3 linked regions of the Homo sapiens genome follow. The protein of the gene in region 2 purifies or fractionates together with the protein of the main gene of each other region. This does not show direct contact. Each region holds a gene or a part of one and is shown on either strand. Other genes may lie near its edges.

What was found. The genes of interacting proteins can lie anywhere in the genome.
Region 1: the proteins of KCNJ5 (region 2) and GNB1L purify together in Homo sapiens (affinity purification with mass spectrometry; 2 studies listed by BioGRID and IntAct, with this or other methods). This does not show direct contact.
Region 3: the proteins of KCNJ5 (region 2) and PKP4 purify together in Homo sapiens (affinity purification with mass spectrometry; 2 studies listed by BioGRID and IntAct, with this or other methods). This does not show direct contact.

The regions. Positions count from the first base shown.
Region 1 is NC_000022.11:19,782,696-19,788,880, forward strand, and holds the end of GNB1L (guanine nucleotide-binding protein subunit beta-like protein 1), read right to left. Parts: coding exon 6,014-6,185; 3' UTR 528-6,013; downstream 1-527. UniProt on the Homo sapiens protein: Acts as a critical regulator of DNA damage response (DDR) signaling via specifically regulating phosphatidylinositol 3-kinase-related protein kinase (PIKK) family proteins.
Region 2 is NC_000011.10:128,908,339-128,915,371, reverse strand, and holds part of KCNJ5 (G protein-activated inward rectifier potassium channel 4), read right to left. Parts: intron 5,521-7,033; exon of another isoform or gene 5,432-5,520; intron 4,109-5,431; 5' UTR 4,099-4,108; coding exon 3,162-4,098; intron 1-3,161. UniProt on the Homo sapiens protein: Inward rectifier potassium channels are characterized by a greater tendency to allow potassium to flow into the cell rather than out of it.
Region 3 is NC_000002.12:158,620,946-158,627,978, reverse strand, and holds part of PKP4 (plakophilin-4), read right to left. Parts: intron 6,990-7,033; coding exon 6,858-6,989; intron 6,749-6,857; coding exon 6,558-6,748; intron 3,102-6,557; coding exon 2,552-3,101; intron 1-2,551. UniProt on the Homo sapiens protein: Plays a role as a regulator of Rho activity during cytokinesis. May play a role in junctional plaques.

The DNA of each region.
Region 1 (6,185 bases), on a different chromosome or scaffold from region 2:
GGGTGCACACTGGACTCTTCCCACCTACTGATGGTGTGTGAGGCTGATGTGCATGGATTCTAGCTCCTTCCCTGTTTCTGGGGCCTCAGCTGTCTGTGTTCACTCTTTCTTGCTACACAAAGAGAAACAAGGACAAGCCTTATTTGATAAAGGCCACAAACACTTTGACCTTCCTCCACCCAGTGTAGGGATCTGTTTCCCCTCTCCTGGACTCCAGGGCTGGTCACAGAAGGCTCTGGGCTCCAACCTGGCTTGCTGGACGTGCTCTTGAAGCCCCCAAGTAAGAAGTCTGAGTCCCTGAGACCACCACACTGCAAGGACACTTGAAGGTACTCAGGTTGGTGGTCCCCGCTGTGCCCAGCCCCTGAATGAAGCCAAGGCTCCAAGCACCTGAGTGAAGAGGCTGTGATGGAAGCGAATCCTCCAGCCCTGGCCATCACCCCGTGGAGTAGACAAACTGCTCAGCCCAGCCTCTCCTAAATTCCCGACCCACGGAGCCCACGTGCCCAGAATGGCTGTTATGCTGCTCTGTTTGAGGTGGTTTATTAATGTAGCAAGAGATAATGGCACCAGGATGAGGCCAAATGACTCGATTTCTCTACACCCCACATTTTACAGGTTTCAGAGCCCAAGTCAGGAGGTCAAGTGTGCATGCAAGAGGTGGCAGGGGACAGATGTGCTGCTGTTCCCAGGCCACCTGCACAGCTGGATGGTGGAAGCAGTTCACTTAAAGGCCATGAGTTACTCGGGAGGCTGAGGCAGGAGGATCACTTGAGCCTATTAGTTGGAGGCTGCAGTAAGCTATGATCATGCCACTGCACTCCAGCCTGGGTGACAGAGTGAGACCCCCACTGTCCCTGGTCTCTTAAAAGAAAAAACAAACAAACAAACCAAAAAACAAAACAGCTTATGAGCACCTCCTACTAATTTCCTCAGCTTAGCACACCCTGTGGCCGTTGTCCCCATCGTCCGTGGCTTCATCCCTCAACTGATGCTTTCCTATGTGGACTTCCCGGCCAGTGCTGTGGGACCTCCCCTGTAGGGCTGGCCAGCCTCATGGGCTGGGCTACCCGTCCCACTCAGCAGTGGCTGCCTGGCCTCCCCTCTGTCCCTCCTGCCCAGCTCCTAATGGGCCTCCCATAAAAGCTGATGCGTGGGAGCCAAGCCACAGCTCGCTGACCTGGGGAAGCTGACAGAGTGACAGAGGGTCTCAAGGACTCTCCACCCACAAGGCGGGAATGGGGATGCTGGCAAATCTGGTATGAAGGTTGAGACCCCGAGGAGAGGCAGGCCTGGGGGACCGTGCAGCAGCTGTGCCCACCTAGGACCACAGGGCTGGTGGGGCTGGCAGCTTGGTAGAGGGCAGGTGCACAGCAAAGTTTTCACCGGTGCCGGCTTGTTGTCTTCCACGCTGGGATTTCACATGAAGTTCTAGCTAATTGAGTATAAGCATTTCTAAAGAACCCCCGGAGGGTTGTTTTTCTTTGTGCAAACACTCCTTTTGTGCAGAGGGTGTTCTGTGGCTTCTTGGCAGAGACACAGGTGGGAAACACCTGATTGAACATCATTGCCTGGGGAGTGGAGACACGCACAGCACGTCAACATGGAGCGCCCAGCAGCGGCGGCGGGTCCTGGGCTGTGCTCCGGAGCCCTTCCCGGGATCATCTCCCGGCATCGGCTGACCCCTCGGTGTCTACGTGCCAAGCCCAATCTGCCTGCAGGGACACCCACTGCCAGAGGCGGAGGCAGGTTCTCCTGGTCCCAGACCCAGGGCCGTCTGTTGGCCTGCAGGTAACACGCAGGGAGGAAGGAAAAGGCTCTAGGCACAGCTGCTTGTCTAAGAGGGACCCTGTTGGCGGCGCAACGCTGGGTGAGTGCTGCCCGCCCGCGGATGGGGTGCTGGCCGAACCTACCTTGTAAAGTGGGGCTGCACAGAGGTCAGCACATGGTGGCGCCCACCGTCGAGAGGGGAGGCCCCTTGGCACTGGAGGCAGGGCCTCACCAGGCAGACGTGCCAGGACCCGCGTCCCTGCACACAGCTGCCCACCGGCCAGTGGAGTGGGACCTGCTGCCCCTCTGACAGCTCCTGGTAATCAGAGGGGCCCACTCCACCTGCACCGGAGGCAGCGGCTGGGGATGCTGGAGCATACGGCTCCAGCCACTCAGGATCCCACTCTGGGCCGTGAAAGTTACTCCACAGAACACCCCAAGGCCACCCCTGCTGGCTGTGAAGACACCACCAGGCGGACAGTGCCCAGGGCTGGGGCTCACAGCCACGAGAATCTGGATTTGAACAGAAAAAGCCCCCAGCCGCGCTGCCACCCTGACGCAGCCTTGTGGGGCCCTGAGCAGAGGACCAGCTACGTTGTGCCCGTGCCTCGACACATGGAAATTCTTCCAATAAGAACAGGATGGTGGGCCGGGCGCAGTGGCTCAGGCCTATAATTCTAGTGCTTTGGGAGGCTAGAGGCGGGAGGATCGATCGCTTGAGCCCAGGAGTTCGAAACCAGCCTGGGCAACATAGCGAGACTCCTTCTCTATAAAAAAAAATAAAAAATTAGCTGGGCATGATGGCCTGCACCTATGTGGGTGGTCCTGAGCTTCTCGGGAGGCTGAGGCAGGAGAATCGCTTGAACCTGGGAATCAGAGGTTGCAGTGAGCCGAGACTGCTCCATTGCACTCCAGCCTGGGGGACAGAGTGAGACTCTGACTCAAAAAAAAAAACACCCCAAAAACACAGGATGGTAGAACACACCTACCTGAGTTGGCACTGAAAATGGCAAGAAATGTCCGCCGTTGTTTCCAAACACCAAGTTCTCTCTGGCTTGAGAGGCCTCACTGCTACCCAAGAGCATTATGGAGGAAGATGTGGAAGGGCTGCCTCTCCCAGTTGGTGGGTTGGCCAGGGGCGTGATGGCAGCGACCAGCCATGCTGCCAGGAGTCGCCTCTCAGGTTCATCCCAGGAGCTGCATGCTGACCTTCGCGTGCTGCCTCCGGGCCACCCCTCCTCCCCACTTAATGCCTTCACTGCTGGCTCTGTTGGCGTTCCTGCCAGCCTACAGGAAGTGGCTGTTTGCTAGGAAGAGAATGCCAATGTTCAGGTGCATCTTTTCCAAGCTGGATGTCTGGAGCTGAGACCGTTTCTTCTTCTGTTGTGGGGGTTTCAAGGCTGGTCAGACGCATGGTGATTCATCACGACCCAGGTTCTGTTGACACAAAGGCCGACCTGTCCAGAGCCACATGGCTCTGCTGTGGACACCACGGAGCAGCTCAAGAGAGGAACAGGACCAGGAGGGCTGCACTGCTCTTGGCCGGCTTGGACCCCAGCACCGGTTCTGCTGCTCTCCCAGGCAGCTCAGCCAGGTGAATGAAAGTCCTGGGCCTGCCCTCCACAGGACGTCTATAAGGCCTCAGAAGCTGGATCTGCCTGGCAAGGGGGGCCCTATCTGCCTAGCCACCCAGATGCGGGCACGTGGCCCCGTTGTGCACTGGAGGGGTGAGGGCTGTGTTAGGCATGCAGGACTCACGCTGTCCCGACTCCATCCCTGCACACTGAGATTCAGAACAAGATGTGCCTGGACACTGCTCAACGCCACATGGCCTGGGGCAGGGAGCTCAAGGCCAGGCTAGGGGGCAGCCGCCTGCCATCCACCCTGCTTGTGCCTTTGACTGAAAGCACGAGGGCCAGGGGCCAACTCAGGGTCTGTACACCCTGCCCACAGCTCTTCATGGCCTCTATGTAAGACATCAGCAGGCAGTGCCACTCGCCAACCTCATGCTGGCATGCACACCTGGGCCCTCATGTGGGATACCCACCTCGTGGCTGTGGGACGTAGGGAGTTTTGTAACTACAGTGATGATGCCAAAGATGACAGGGACATAAACAGGGGAAGGGGTAGAGGCCCAGAACCCTCAGGGTGGGAGCTGAGGCGGGGCAGATGTGCCTTTGGCAAGGCTGTCAAGGGCATGCAGGGAAACTGCAAAGCCAATTCCCACTCCACCTACCCTGCCGCTGTCATGGGGATGTCAGAACCTGACACCTTCCCTCACTGTGACAGCCTGTGATGAGCACCCAGGGCACAGCTCCCTCAGCACCTGCAGTCACTGCAGCCTAAACCCAGGACCCTTCCCCTCCCTGACACCTCAGTGATATGAAAATACCTCCCGGAGTGCCCTACGCATCCTGGCGGCTATAGGACACTCGAGGAAAAGCAGCAGGGCCCCCCTCTCCAAAGGTCCTGGGCACCTGGTGGCCACCCTTGTCCAACGGAGCCAGGCCAGTACCCGAGCCAGGTGGTCTCCAAGCTTGGGCCAGGGGCCGCTTTCCCGGCCAGCACTGACATTCCCGTTTGATGGAACGGTCCCCATGGTACCTCTGACCAACAGAGAAGTGTGGTCACAGGACTCCTCAAGGACTCCGGGCCCCCCAGCAACCATGTTCCTCACAGTGGGGTTGGGGAGGCACGGCCTTGGGACCCCCTGCAGTGGGTGCACAGGTCTCACTGACAAATCCAACACCCCCATCCCCAGGCCTTGGAAGCCCTCCTCGGCTGTACCCCACGGCGGCTGGCCATGTCCACTTCACTCAGTGCAGCCACCCTCAGGCTGTAATCCAGCCCCCACCCCCAGCCCGGCACTGGAGCCTTCCTGGCCCCAAGCTGCAGCGCCCAGTCCAGCCCTCCGTTTGGCAGGTCTGTTCCGGGAACTCCCCTGATCCACCCCTGCTCCGGCCACCTGGATCCCACACCCTTCCGATCCGTCCCACACATGTTCAGATTTCTGCCTGGAAACCTGGAAATGCCATGTGGTCCTGCAGGAGGCTGGTGCCACTCTCAGGGTCACCCTCTGTATCTCATCCTGGGGGTCTGCTGGACTCGAGTCTAGTTCTAGGACTAGAAGCCCAGGTGGGGGTCCCAAGGAGCATCGGCAGGGCCTTGCAGGGCAACTGCCTCAAGGGAGGCCACCCCGGGCCTTCAGCTAGAGGGGCTCTTCCGGCAATCCGGGCAGACACAGGCGTGTGTGGTCCCAGCTTCTCTGGATCTGCCCATGGGCCCCACTCCAATATTCAGGGTCATGGTTCTTTCCCAATCAACACCCGCTTTTAGGAGGAGACGACCGGCCAGGCTGGGCCCGGCTGCATGCAGTGTGAGGCTCTGGCTGCTAAGTCCTGCTCTTGCTGTGTTGTGCCCTGGGGGCCACCCTGTGTGCAGCCGCAGCTGTGACTGTGGCCTTGGCCACTGTGAGGCGGTGCTTGTCACACTCCCTTGCTGCTCTCGTGCCTTCTGCCCAGCACTCACCTGGAGGTGCACCCTGTGCGCCTTCCCCACTGCACCCTCTGCGGGCAGGCGTGCCCTCCCGGATCCCACATCTGGCCTGGCCCTGTGCGCTGCAAGCCCCCCTTGCCGTCCCTCACAGGCACCTTTCTCTGCTTCACTCTTTAGGGAGTTCAGTTACTTCCTGATCCTGATCCTGGCCTCAACCTGTGTGTTGGGAGCTCCTGGCCTCCTCGGGGTGAGGGGTCATGTGGACATCGACGCAGCTATGGTTGGGGCCTATCATCTCCTGAGGCCTGGCCCAGGAAACCCACACTCGGGGTGGCCCATTCAACAGCAGGTGTGAGGGTGGGGCTGAGCATCCTGCCTGGTGGGGGTCTGAGGGCACTGATGCTAAGTGGGGGACCAGGGCCTCCTCAGGGAGCTCCCACCTCAAGCCTGCAACTTGGCAATGGAAATTTATTATAAAATACCCTCAGCTGGCAACACAGCAGGCCCAAGCCAACGTCTCCTGCAGGCCTCGGACGGCCAGGGCTCTGGCTGGCCCCCAGAGTCACCGTCCTGTGATGAGGCACTCCACAAAAGGAAATACCAACCTCATGAAGACAGCGGGGACTCCATGGTCCTTGGGCCATGACTTGCTGGTCCTCAGAGGCCCTTGAGGTTTCAGGCCAAGGCTGGGGCCTGATGCCCACCTCCCTGCCCGCCCTCCTCGTCTCCCGGGAAGGGAGTGGGTGAGTCATGCGCGTGGGTAGAGTGACCAGAGGCTGATCCGCTGATCCTTGGAGCCCGCGGCCAGCAAGCCATCGGCGGTGAAGGCCACGCACTGGACAGCGGCGCTGTGGAAGGCCAGCACGGCCAGTGGCTGCATCGTCCGCCAGTGGAACACGCGGATGCGGTGGTCCCAGCCT
Region 2 (7,033 bases):
ACAGGAAGAGGAGCAGACGCACACACAGAGCTTGGCTTCTTGATTTGAGGCTGCTCCAATGCCTCGTTTCCCTGTCTACTCAGCCCGTGCCATGCCTATGCTATTTTTAGGTGTTGCTTTCTCTCCAGAGAGGAGGGCAGCTTTGTTTATGGATGAGGAGGCCTCTGTGCTTAGGGTCACAGGAAAGCAGCTTTCTGATATTTAATCTTCTGGCCAAGGAAGGCATTAACTGTGTTGGTTGGGTGCTGAAGGCAACCGTCTCCAGCTCCCACTTTGGGCTTTCTCTGGGAGGGGCTCATACAAAGCAGACCCAGGTCCAAGGCTGCTTCTCAGCCCCAGCGCACCCACACAGGTGCGCCCACAGCCTGCTCTCTGCTCTCAGTGATGCCTGCCTGGGCCGGGCCTCTCCCTTCAGTCGTTACCCTTGTTGTCCCCACAGCCTTGGCAGAGAGGCCCAAACCGGGCCCTGAGCAGCCTAGACCATGCCAGACGTCTGCAGCCTCCCAGGGCCTTGGGAAAGGTATGGGCAGGACCTTTCCCCTTTGGGATCCTCCTGCTCCTCATGGGGTGTGGCAGCGGCTGCCCTGTAGCTAGAGATCCTGGTGTGTCCCTGTCATTGCTCAATACGTTTGGAAAGGATTCCCCAGGTGTCAGGTATAGTGATCAGCACAGCTCCTTTTCATCTTGAATCCTCCCAACAGCCCTAAGAGATTGATTTTCCTCACTTTGCTGACAAGGTAAGCAGCTTGCTCAAACCCGCTCAGGCAGGATACGGCAGAGTTGTGCTACTCAAGCTGAGGCATGGATTCCCAGCCCACACCTGGCTGCATGTGCTTGACAACCAAACCACCCACATCCAGGACAGATGTGGGCCAGGGTCTCCTGCCCTATCTCCCTGGATCTCCCCTACAGTTTGTGGGACAGAGCAAGCATAGCCCGGGTTGTGGGAGGGGAAGGAGGCCAAACCGTGAGGACAAGTGAATGGCGGGCCCCTGACTTTGAGGGAGGTGTGGTTGGGGGTGCAGCGGGGCAGCGGGGCAGATAGCACTGGCTCCCTCCACTACGAGCCTGTGGGCGCTCTCCCTGCTGCATGGCTGGGGAGTGAGGATGGCCTTGGAGAGTGGTCAGGTGTGCTATGATTTGACCCCATGTCTCTCACCCAATCCCTTTTTTGTGGCTTCAGAGTGGAGTTCTTCCCCTGAAATGCAGCCTGTGTCCTGATTCTGACCCTGGAGGCAAGGGCAGGGTGACCTGCAAGCCCCTAGCTCTGTGGGGGAAACCTTCCTGAGTCCTGACTGTCCTCGGCCCCGGGGCTGCCCACCTGCCACCATATGCTGCCTGCCAGACTCCAGCCCCCAGCAGATGGCCGAGCAGCCACCTCTGGCACCAGTCCCTGGAGCTTGTCATTGCCCTCTCCTGGTTCCACCAACTTCAAAATGGGAAGGCTTGTGCAGTCTGGGTCTGAGTCCCCTGCCCGGCAGCCAGCTTCCTGGGGGCTGGAATGTGTGCTTGGCCATCTTCCTGACAGGCCGCTAGTATTTTAGTGGGGCAGAGTGGTGAGAGAAGCTCCAGATTTGTAAGTGGAAGAGCTGAATATGAACACTCACTGTCTACATAATGCTTTTTAGGTTCAGCCTCGACATCTGTAAAATGAGACTGAAGCCAGCCCTACACTGTCATTTGCAAGAATTGGAAAAATAGACATGCATCATTCTGAGCGTGACTGAGTTTCTAGAACCCATCCTTAGGGCCTGACCAGCTGCTCATTGTACCTGGTTGAAAAAAAAAAGAGAGAGAGAGAGAAAGGAAGGCACGAGGAAGAAATGAAATATGCAGGATGTGGGGTTTTGCTGCGAGTGGGGTGGGGACTAGGGTCCTCTGCCAGAGTTCAGGCGGTCCCAGGCCTTGGACTCCCTGGAGCCACCTCACAGAGGTCTGCCATGGCTGAGTGGCTGAGGAACTGGGGGGTCCTTGGCTACCAGCTGCTGGTGAGTCAGTAGCTGAGCAGGGAGGTGCCATGCTGGCCACACAAAGGGCATTTTCTTGGGCATACATGGATGTTGATGCCTCAGCATGGATGCACTGTTTTTTTGTGAGAAAGGAGCCTCACCTGCCCTGCGTTCACTAAACCAACCTTCTGCAAGAATGCTGAGGGCTGGCTGCCCCAGAGGGAGCCCAGCCACAAAAGCCCTTCCCCTGCAGCAAAGGTCTCTCCAAGTAAGGGGTTGGTGAGAACCTTTTGAGTTTAGGAAATTCTGCATCCCCTCCTCTCCCAGTGATGAGACTCAGTGGGTAAGGACAGCGAGAAGTCCACTGTAAAGAAACCAGTTCGCTTTTGTTTCGCCCTGTGATTACCAGAGCTATCTGACCAGGGAGCTCTTCTGGGTAGAACACTTGTTCCAAGAAGGGGCAGTTTGTCCTGTTGGAAACAAGTGCTGGCTCTGGGGTCCCTGGTCTCAATTTCCATCCTAGCTCTATCATTCGAAAGTGCTTGCTCTTGGGCAAATAATTTAGCCTGTCTGTGTCCCTGTGTCTTTATCTGTACCTTAATAAAAACTATCTTGGCTGGGCACTGTGGCTCACGCGTGTAATCCCAGCACTTTGGGAGGCCGAGGCAGGTGGATCACAAGGTCAGGAGTTCGACACCAACCTGGCCGACATGGTGAAACCCTGTCTCTACTAAAAATACAAAAATTAGCCAGGCGCAGTGGCGGGCACCTGTAATCCCAGCTACTCCAGAGGCTGGGGCAGGAGAATCGCTTGAATCCGGGAGGTGGAGGTTGCAGTGAGCCGAGATCGGGCCACTGCACTCTAGCCTGGGTGACAGAGCAAGACCCTGCCTCAAAAATAAACAAATAAACAAAACAACAACAACAATAACCCACTATATCTCATAGGGCGTGGGAGGACATTTGGCCAGATGATAGATGTTTATTGTTTAGGACAGTGCCTGAAAGTTGGGAAGTTCCTGTCAGTGTTAGCTATTGCTATTACTCAATCTTGAGTACCAGTACCCCTCAAACCACAATTTAGGGATTGAATGTGTTGCCTGCGCCACCCCAGGACTCTCAGGCACAGACCTGCATCTTCTGGAGTCACAGTTGCCTAAGTCTGAAGTGTAGGTAGGGCCACCTGTGGCTGAGGAGGACAAAGCGCCTTACCTGTGGCTTCCACCATCCCTTCTAGAATGACCACAACTTCAAACTCTTCCTGATGCAGCTGAGCCTGAGACATCTCCCAGAAAGGGCTCTTCTGGTTGATCTCATGGGAGATGATCAGAGGAGACACAAGGAAGAGGCGGTCGTCGCCCGTGTCAAAGCCCACGTTGATGTCTGTCTGGTTCAGGGGGATGAACTCCCCCTCTTTGGTCTGCCGGGACTTGATGAGCTTGGCCCGGATGGAGGCCTCCACGATGTGGGAGTTGCGGAGGTCGCCCACCCGGAACATGAGGCACAGCTTCTCGTCCCGCATGGAGATGACTGCGTTGTTGGAAAACATGAGGGTCTCCGCTCTCTTCTTGGGCTGGCTGATCTTGACAAACATGCACCCCACCATGAAGGCATTGACGATGGAGCCCAGGATGGCCTGGACCAAGAGGAGTATAATCCCCTCTGGACACTTCTCTGTGATGACTCGGAAGCCATACCCAATGGTTGTTTCGGTCTCAATGGAGAACAGGAAAGCGGACACGAAGCCACTGAGGTTTTCAACACAAGGAATCCACTCTTGGTCGCCAACATGGTCCAGGTCACCCCGGATATAAGCAATGAGCCACCAAATGAAGCCGAAGAACAGCCAGGTGACAGTGTAAACCATGGTGAAGACGAGCAAGTTGAAGCGCCACTTGAGGTCCACCAGGGTGGTGAAGAGGTCACTCAGGTACCGGTAGGTCTCCTGGACGTTGCCGTGGTGCACGTTGCACTTGCCACTCTTCTCCATGTAGCGCTGGCGTGGCTTCTTGCCCTCGGCCAGCAGGCGCGTACGGTCTGTGGCAATGGGGACATAATCGCGGGCCTGTTTTGGAATCTTCTTGGGGTCCCAGGGAGTGACTCCAATCTCCATGTCCTGGTTCATGGCATTCCTAGAATCGCCAGCCATAGCTGGGATGCTTTGAGTTAAAAAGACACCATCAGTGAAGTGGGCTGTTCTGATTCACTAGAACACAAGATGGAAGGCCACCCCCACCCCGGGGCTCTCCCAGGCTTCTCTTCTGTTATCCAGGGGTCAGGGCGTGAAATCCTCAAGGGCAGGGGCCTCACTCTCTTATAGGGTTCTTTTGTATCCCTGGTGCCTAGTACAGAGTCTAGCACAAAATAGATGCTTGCTAGCTGTTTGTTGAATGAATAAATGAACAATATCTAGGTGCAAACTACACATTAAGTGTTGAAAGGGTTTGAGAAACCTGGGAGCAATTTAAAAAGAATAATCACAATAGTTTATTAAATACCTACTGTGTCCCACGCATTACATGTGGATTGTGGCTTCTTATCGCCACAGCAATTCACTGGCATTAGATATTGGAATCCCCACTATATAAATACTATATTGTTTGCTTATGAATCAGGCTTAATTCAAACAGTCTCTCTCCCACCATCAGAATGTAAGCTCCACAGGGGCATAAGTTTGTGTTCATTTTGTTCTCTGGTATTCCAAGCACTTAGAACACAGCCCGGCACATGGATGTATTCAAAAAGTACTTACTGAGTAATTGGATGGATAAATAAAAAAACAGGCTTCCAAAGAGGTTAAGTGACACCCAGGCCACCAAATATCAGGCAGAGCTGATTTTTGGATTCCTGCTCATCTGGCCCAAGCCTGTGCTGTTTCTTTCATTCCTTGCTGTCTCTATTTATCTTGAGGTCTTTTAGCAGCAGACAGAAAGGAAAAGGCAGCATGTATCTGATTTGTCAATTGGTCACCCCTACCGTCTGAGTGTGAAGTCTGCAGCCATCTGAGTGCTTATTAAAATGACAAATTGCTGTGTAGGCCCGCCATTAGAAAATTTGATTCCCTGTCCTCTAAGAAATGGAACTGGACAGGATGTTAATGGCCCCAAAGCTCTTCAAAGGGCGTAATGTGTTTGTGGGGGTGCCTACCACACTTCCAAGAGATACCCACACACCTGCAATACAGGTGTCTGATAGTCCCCTCAAAACCCATTTAACGAGCTTTAAGACTCTCATTCAGTTGGGAAAGACCTCTTTAATTAACAATAACAGACAACATTTCTGAGCACTCAGAAGCCAGGAACTGCACTAGGAAATTTTTATCCATTGGCTGATTTAATCCTCACAACATGGTTAGATAAATACCATTATTATCCCCCCATTTTTCAGAAGAGAAGAATGAAGCTCACTTAGCATGTGACCAAGTGAGGTTTTGGGTCTAGGTTTATCTGGCTGCAGCCCAAAGGCTGACCCACAGCACTCACCACACAACGGCCAGCAGACACTGATGCTCCGGGGCTCATGCTAAGGCTGATGACCTGCTCCCTTCAGAAAGTTCTATGAGCTTCTGGCCCTGGGAAACATCACCTTAGGGATACTATCTTTCAACCCTTCTTCCTCTTTATAAGTAAGTCTTCCTTGAATTCGCAGTTACCCTCCCTCCCGGGTATAGGGTCCCCCAGGAACCCCCACTTACTTATCTGTCCTGATCGAGAAACACAGAATGCCTAGACTGCTCTGTCACTTGGCCAGCTGCATGTCTTTTCCTGCAGGCCTGAGCCCTGGAAACATTCCCTGGCACTGAAACCCTGTTTAGGTTGTTACCTGAAATACTGAAAGATTAAACATGTTGCTAAACATGTAGGAATTAGCCCAACCTTGGGCCAAATAACTCCATAACCCAGAGCCCTTGCCGCAGACATACTTAAGCGGAGCACCTCTTTTCTTGCTGTCTGTCATGAGGACCAGTGCAGCGCTCTACATGTAAGTTCCCCTAATAAGTGCTTTGGAACTTGGTGATTTCTTCTTTGGAATCTCAACTGACCCCATTTGGGGATGGTTTGGGCAGTCCCTTGCAGGAATTCCCCTGCCACCATTCTGAGGGTGACTCCAGCTGCAGGTTCCACCAGGCAGAACACCGGGAAGCTGTGTCCCCAGTAGAACAACCTGGAAAAAGGCCTGTCAACCACTGAGCTGACTGCCTAATGGCAAACCAAGGTAGATCCCAGCTGTCCTGGGGAGTCAGATGACCCTGGCAGGCCTTTTCCTGTGCTGCCTGGGTGATTATAGCAATTTCAAGATAACCTTTAAAACATCATATCAAAAGGTCATCTGAAGGGCTTTGTCCCAGATGTCCATTGGCCATTTCCCATTCTGCATAGGGCCACCTGCTTCCTGCTCCTTCATGTGGCAGTTAACAAGGATAAATGAGACAAGGAGGAAAATGCTTGGGGCTATCTTTGCAGAATCCCAAGCAGGAATTTGCTCTGCCTTAAGTGGGAGACTTCATCCTGAAAACTCAATCACAGATGCTCAGAGATGATGGAAAATGCTGCTGTCCCGAGGCCCCGTGTATTCTGGACACCCCAGCTGTTGGAACCAAGATAGGCTTCCAATGGGGGTGCCGCTGCGGACTCCCTGAGCCACTGAGGTTGGGCAGGGCAGGCACAGTGCCACAAGAATGAGTCATTGGCCGGGGCACATGGGAGCTCACATCCTCCTGTACTCAGCTCTTTGGGGAAACAGCTTGCTGCTGATTTTCTGCACTGTTTCCTTCTTTATTTTTAAACATACTTGCATACATTCTTGTAGGCGAAGGCTTTGTGCCGTACTAGAAACGGGAAAATGTTTTCTAGGAGACTTCAGCCCAGATAGGAAAACTTTTTGCGTCTGGCAGATAGGAAAGGGTGGTTTACTTTTGATTTGATATTGGGACGCATTCCTGTGCGCTGGAATCATCCGCAGAAGTCATCCCTTGCTCAACCCAGGGTAACATCTGGATTCTGACTCAGTGTCCAACAAACCAGCTTTGTGGTCCAAATACAAACAAACTTAACTTTCTTTGCCTCAGTTTACTCTGCTATAAA
Region 3 (7,033 bases), on a different chromosome or scaffold from region 2:
AATAAATAAAAATAAATAAAAAATAATTTTTTCAGAAGCATTTCCACTGATTAATTTTTAATAACATTACTTCCCCTTCCAAATAATGGAAAACACTGATACGCCACTGCATTATTTATCCAACCAATACTTTCTATTTGCAATTCCACAAACATATTAGTTTAGCTATTATTACGGTGATTCCATGTGATTAAAAATATTTATATTTATGGCATTAGAAATAAACATAAATTTATCTTTCAAAGATCAATTCTTTATCTCCTCAAAAGTTTTCTTTACATGCCATGATTATTCTGAAATGAACATTTTAGAGTATATATATATATATTTCTGTAGTTTGTATCATTTAAATTATGATCATCAAATACCCAAGTCCCTGAATGTAGTACAAAACATTGCTTATCAATTAGCAGGCTATTAGTCCTTTGAAATCAAGAACACTTTGCTTCTTGAGAACACTGCAGTATTTCTAGAAAAAAATCACTGAGAGGCTGGGCCTAAAAAATAGACATTATATATATTTTCCCCCCAAGACATAAAGTCTAATTTTACCTGCATTGTCAGAGAAACAGACTGTTTAAACCAGAGGAAATGAGTCCTCTTAGGGTTAAATATGGAGACAATAATTTATATGCTGGCTTCCTTCCTCCAGTCTCCTCTCTACTCTCTTACAAGCAGAGATTTCTACATAGCTGTTCTATACACACGGGGGAATATGGAAGTCCTCAGAACTATTTATTTTCTAAGATTTCCTTGGGAGGTAGAATTTCATAAATGATTCCTACATCATTTTGCTGCATACTTTTCAGAGGCATTTCAGAAAATATCTAAGTCAAGCACACTTCTTGGATAGATGAATGAAAAAGAGGTGGTTTCTCCACTAAGAATTTCTTTGAGCTCAAAAATCAAGTTCAATATAAATTCTCCAGGCAAAATTATTCAATCACAAAAATCTCAAAAAGGCTTAAATTTTCTTAGAAGACATAAAAAAGATACTAATTTTACTATGTAAGAATGTTAAACAGTTTTGTAAATTAAAACCAAAATGAAATAAAAAGAAGTGACAAAATGGAAAAAATACTTGAGAAGCATATTACGAGGTGCTAGCTTATCTCTAGTAAAAAAAAGCTTTCACGAATTATAAAAATAGACAAAAGAACTTGTAGTTTCACAAAATGAAATAAAGTCGTTGATGAACAGATTAAATCTTCAACCTCAGTCATAACTCAATAAAAGCCCTTAAAAACAATGAGGTACAGCTTTTTACCTATCAGATTGGCAAAGATGAAAAACTTGGAATATGCAGCACTAGTGCAGTGTAGACAAGGTATAGACAAACAGGCACTCAAACTACTGGCAGAAATATAAATCCGTGTGTAACCTTCTTAGAAGGCAATTCTACGTAATATCTCTCAAAGTAAAAATACACATATATTTTGATGCAGCAATTCTACTGGATCCCAGTTACCCTAGTACTTATGTGAAATATGCAGGGAGAACAATGTATGTACTACATCATCTCTAACAGCTAAACATAACAAACAACCTAACTGTCCATTAGGAGGAAAATGCAAATAAATTATGATATATCTATAAAAAATGGGTCCCATGCATCTATTAAGAATGAGGTAGAGCTCTTAAGACATAGTTAGTGAAAAGAACAAAGTATAGAAGATCTATATGATAGAATTCCATCAATAGAAAACACAATGTGTGTGCAGATTTGCATGGATTGCATATATTTGTAAATGCAAAGAAACATTCTGAAAGCCACATCAACTGTGATGGGACTGGGTGAGGGTAAAAGGCTTTCACTTATTTCAATATTTTCCCATATAGTTTTAATTTTTACCATTCTGTATATGTTACTTTTAAAATATAATTTAAAACACTAAAGTTAAATTGCATTTTATTTAAAATAACCAAATCTTTACACCATGTAGGAAACCCTCCACGAAAAACCCTGAAGTTGGAACAGCTGTATTAGGGACCCGGTGTCTTTCTGCTTTAATAGGAGTGGCATGTAAAAGTGATTCATAAGCGCTTTGTGCATTTACCGTTAAAATGCCAAAATCAAGTAGGGGATAAAATTCATAGTCTAGTCTATATTACCAAAGCATTTCTAAAGAAAAAATTTAAACATTTAAACAGATATTCTGATACCACCTTTTAACATAACTTTAGGGTATGTTTAGGGGTAGGCCTGGCTGGTAAAAAATATTTCATTAAAAAAAATTAGTCAACTGCTTAGAATTGCAACTAATACTTATGAAATGCAAAAAAAGCACATTTTAAACCCTAATATTTAGTGGGAAAATATTACAAAAGAGTTATATCCATTGCAAAAGGATTCTATTGATATAAATGTATATAATTTCATGTATTAAGAATTACAGAACCTGAAAGACAAGTTAACCTTAAGTTTATAGTTTAAAATCTGAGATTAAAAACACGAATGAGCCTTTTCCACCTTTTCATTCTTTGTTTCAACTTAAGTTACACAGAAGATTTCCTCACTGGGTTTTATGTAGCACTGTCACCTTGTACGCACCTGTCAGGCTGTCTGGCCTGGGTGGAACCATCCTCTCATAAATGTCATACTGCTGCTGTCCGAATTGCTCCATGTCATGAACAGTCCTTTGCAGTGAAGGTCCCAGATGCTGTGGTACGGCGGTCATCCCTGAGCGTTTGGGGGACGACGACCCCACCTGGCCTTGGGATGGGGAAGCTACTCGAGTCTGTGCATCCGTCAGGGTCAGTGGGGACCCCACTCTGGCGGTGGTTTGGTATTGAGGGGTTGGTCCGTTGGGATTGGAGGTCTGCCGGGAGGTGACTGACCCAATCCGCCGTATAGCTGTTGGGGAGGCGGGTCTCTGTGAGTACGGAGAGGCTGCCCGTGCAGCAGGTAATGTGGTGGAGGAATATGCACTGGGGTTCAGAGGTCGGGGGTCGGTCACTGACGGAGAGCCAAATCCACTACCCAGAGAAGTTCTCAGAGACCCCCTTGAAGGAGACACGCCTGTGCTGATAACATAAGAAGGAGACTGTGCTCTAGATGGAACTGAACTAACTCTTCTCATGGCCCGATTGGCTACTGATGGCTGATGAAAGGGGGGGAAAAAAGAGAATGGGTTTATCCAGGGTTTTGTGTTCATTGCCATTACAAAAGAAATACACATAGCTCACTACAGAATGTGAATCCACTATTTTAGGCATCTAAGATTCTTTTCCTTTTTATGCTTTGAGCCAGACATTAATTTTTCCTCACGGTGCTTTAGTTGTTTTAGTTTTTTTTTTTTTTTTTGGTGGTTTAAACCAAATGCTAAAATTAACCTGTAAAAAGAGATCTGAAGACATTTAATACTCCTTTTTTATCTTTACATTTTTAACTATTGCCTATGCATTTTTCACAGCACATAAAATGTTTTATTCTAAGTGTTACATGTAATTCATGAGCGTGAAGGGGCACCAGAACAATGTACTTACTTCATTCCCTATGAAGCAAAGTTTGGCCAAGGCAATGCATTTATGTAAAACAAAAATTTGAATATAATTTGAATATATCAGTCTAAATGTAGCTAGTGGAATATTTATCATTGTTTTTCTTTATGGGTTGGTCCCATTAACAAAAGGAACATGTTCTTTCATTGTGGAATAAATGAACATTTGGATCAAGTGTGGGTCTGGCGCTCTCCACTGTGAATTTACTTCGGGGAACAGCTTGGCTACACAGGTGCTCTAGGCAAATTTGTTGATTCCTTTAGATCAAGCATAGCTTCTCACTTTAGCCATTTCTTTTTACCTCTTCTGATCTATGAGTTCTTAGCTTTAATTGGTGGATTTAAAGAGATGCAAAAAAAAGGCACCCCCAAATCTATTCCAGCAGGAGGAATGGTCAAAGCCTCTTTTGGGTTCTTGGCCTAGACAGCTGGAAAAGACCAGGATGGAAAGTGAACATTTCTGCCATTGCTGATCCTACTCTGAATCTGTTGATTCCTGCAGTTACAGCAGGTGCTGGACACTGTTTTTCATGCTGTGCAACAATAAAAAGGAATGGTTAGGCTGGAGAAGGGGCCCAAGGGAAACATGTATGGGAAAAAGGAGAGCCAACTGAGAAATAAAGACATTAGGGATCCAGGTTAGAAGACTAGGACCAGGCTGCTCTGTTACCTCCTTAGTGGCTGCTAGAGTCTAGTTGTCATCAACCCACATCCACTTTTAGGTGGGGAGGTAAGGAAAGAAGCAGGGATCAGATGAGGGCTTTGTATACCCTTAGGGGTCATATGAGGATGTCTGCTCTGCCTCCAGGTGTCGCATGCAACTGGGCTGGCTGAAACACTTGCAGTGAGAACTCACTGTGTGTTCAAGTTCAACAATTTTGGGAAGGCAATAGCAGGGGAGAAGACATGGGGAGGAAAGAGGATGGTAAACAACAAGGCAAAAAAGATGGGGTTTAAAAATTAGTAGACAGCTGGAAAGTTAACAAGCATGATTGGGGCTGGGTGTGGTGGCTGACACCTATAATCCCTACACATTGGGAGACTGAGGAGGGAGGATTGCTTGAGGCCAGGAGCTTGACACCAGCCAGGGCAACATAGTGAGGCCCAGCCTCTACAAAAAACAAACAAACAAAAAAATTAGCTGGGCATGGTGGCATGTGCCTGCAGTCTTAGCTACTCCAGGAGGCTGAGTCAGGAAAATCGCTTGAGCCCAGGGGATTGAGACTATAGTGAGCTATGATTTTGCCATATTGTACTCCAGCCTGGGTGACAGAGTGAGACCTTGTCTCTATTAATTAAGAACAACAACAAAAAAAGCATGATTGGGTGGTAATAGTGGTAACAAAATGCAAAGAAAATCCCACATGACTTGCAACTACCAAAATGAAGTGATAAGTTGGTCCAGACAACTAGAAAATGTGTTGCCTAGACTACATGCAAATTAAGTCTCAGACACCCCCTTGCAAACAATTCTTTAGCTCTAGTGAGAAAATCAACTTACTCTTAAAGAAAAAAGTGTTTACATGATCATTACTAAGGGCAATAAAATTTATATAGATATAAGGTAACTGCTGTTGAAAAGTGTGATTTCAGACCTGCTGACACAGAAATTCACCTAAGCGGATGAACTCCCATTAGCATTTAGTCCAGAGCTTCTCAAACTTTTCCACCAAAGCATCCCCAACAGCAAAAGAATAAATATATAATCTGAGGACTTGGGGTGCAGCCTGAAGTTGCTTGCCACATGCACAAGATTTCCCATTTTAGCTTGAAAAATTCATATGTTATATTTGTGTTTAATACAAACATGTTTTAAATGACTCTGAAATTTCTCCTGAATTGCTGAGCAAAAGTGCCAAAGTTGTATTATGTTTCTCTGTGGGCGTTGGGAACCGTGACCCATTGCTGTGTACCTGTAGAGCTTCCTGTATTGCAGTAGAAGCAGCACAGTGTCCTCCTAACTTATTTGATTATCTTGCTACTTTTCAGCTCTAAAGAAAGCACTGGGGTTTTGGGGTCCTGGCACAGATAGTTAGCCTCACTGGTTACCACCATGCAGGACTCCTATTGCCTCTCTGAATCCTGGGACATGCTGGTGGACTGATGTGAATACAGTGGTAATGAGAAAGGAGCTGAAGAGTTTTTATAAATATACATGCAATATATATTTTTTGCTATCAAGTTAGAGAACCCTAACTTAACAGAATGGATATGTTTCTATACAATAACTTTCTTTAAGCAGGAATAGCTGTATTCTATCTAGTAAAAGAAAAGAAATGTAGTTTTAGAGAATAATTCCAGTGATGATGGTAATAACCTTTGGTTAGAATGGGCAAATCCCATTTTATGCAGGTGTGGGTATAGCACCCTGCCCTCTAGAGCTTTTTATAGCATATTTTAGCCCTAGTATTTTTAGGAACTCATAACCCCTCAGGGACCAAAACATTCCATTCAACTCTCTTACATTCCCCTTAGACTCTTCTCCTCATGCCAAACTTGTTGTTTCCAGAAGAATTACTCTACTGTATCCAGGAACTCATCAGAATTCATCAATGGGAGCTAACTCATAGAAACAAACATATTTAACATTGTATCTCAAATAGAATAAAATGATTTTACTATTTTATCCATTCTATAAAAATTGTACACATTTATTTCTAATAAGAAATACCTATAACAGATATTCAACTAGGAGTGTATTTCTTTTTTTTTCCTTTTTTTTTTTTTTGTTTTGAGACGGAGTCTCGCTCTGTCGCCCAGGCTGGAGTGCAGTGGTGCGATCTCGGCTCACTGCAAGCTCTGCCTCCTGGGCTCAAGTGATTCTCCTGCCTCAGCCTCCCGAGTTGCTGAGATTACAGGCGCCCGCCACCACGCCCGGCTAATTTTTGTATTTTTAGTAGAGACGGGGTTTCGCCATGTTAGGCAGGCTGGTCTTGAACTCCTGACCTCAGGTGATCCACCCGCCTCGGCCTCCCAAAATGCTGGGATTACAGGCATGAGCCACTGTGCCCGGCCGGAAGGTATTTCTTTGCAGAGATCTTGATGCGTTTGGCTTACCTGAACCAGTGTTTGTCCTTCAGCTCTTGAATTCCTCACCACATGGTTGTTAGTTGATCCTATGAATGAATGCTGCTGTCTGTTGTCTGCCTTGCTCACGTTCTGGCTGTTGTGGAAACTCCCTGCTTCCTGGTATCCACTGTCGGAATAAGAATTCATTTGTGTTGAACTTCTTGAGTTACCCAATGATCCTGTAAGAATGAAACCAAGAAATATCTTTATTATACACACTTCTGACACTCGCTTTCAAGAATAAAATCTTAAAAGCAAATCCAGTACTTAAAAGATAACACAACAGACCCTCACTTTCATGGAGAGATGTCTGTTCTGGTGAATAGAGGGTTCCTTGTTCTGGCTCTGTCCTGATGAGATAGTTGTTGGGCTGGACAGCGTCAGAAACTCTAGGTTTGCTTACACCAGTATTTGGCACGTCTGTAACAAGAAAAGTTTAATCAGCTAAATATAATAACATTACA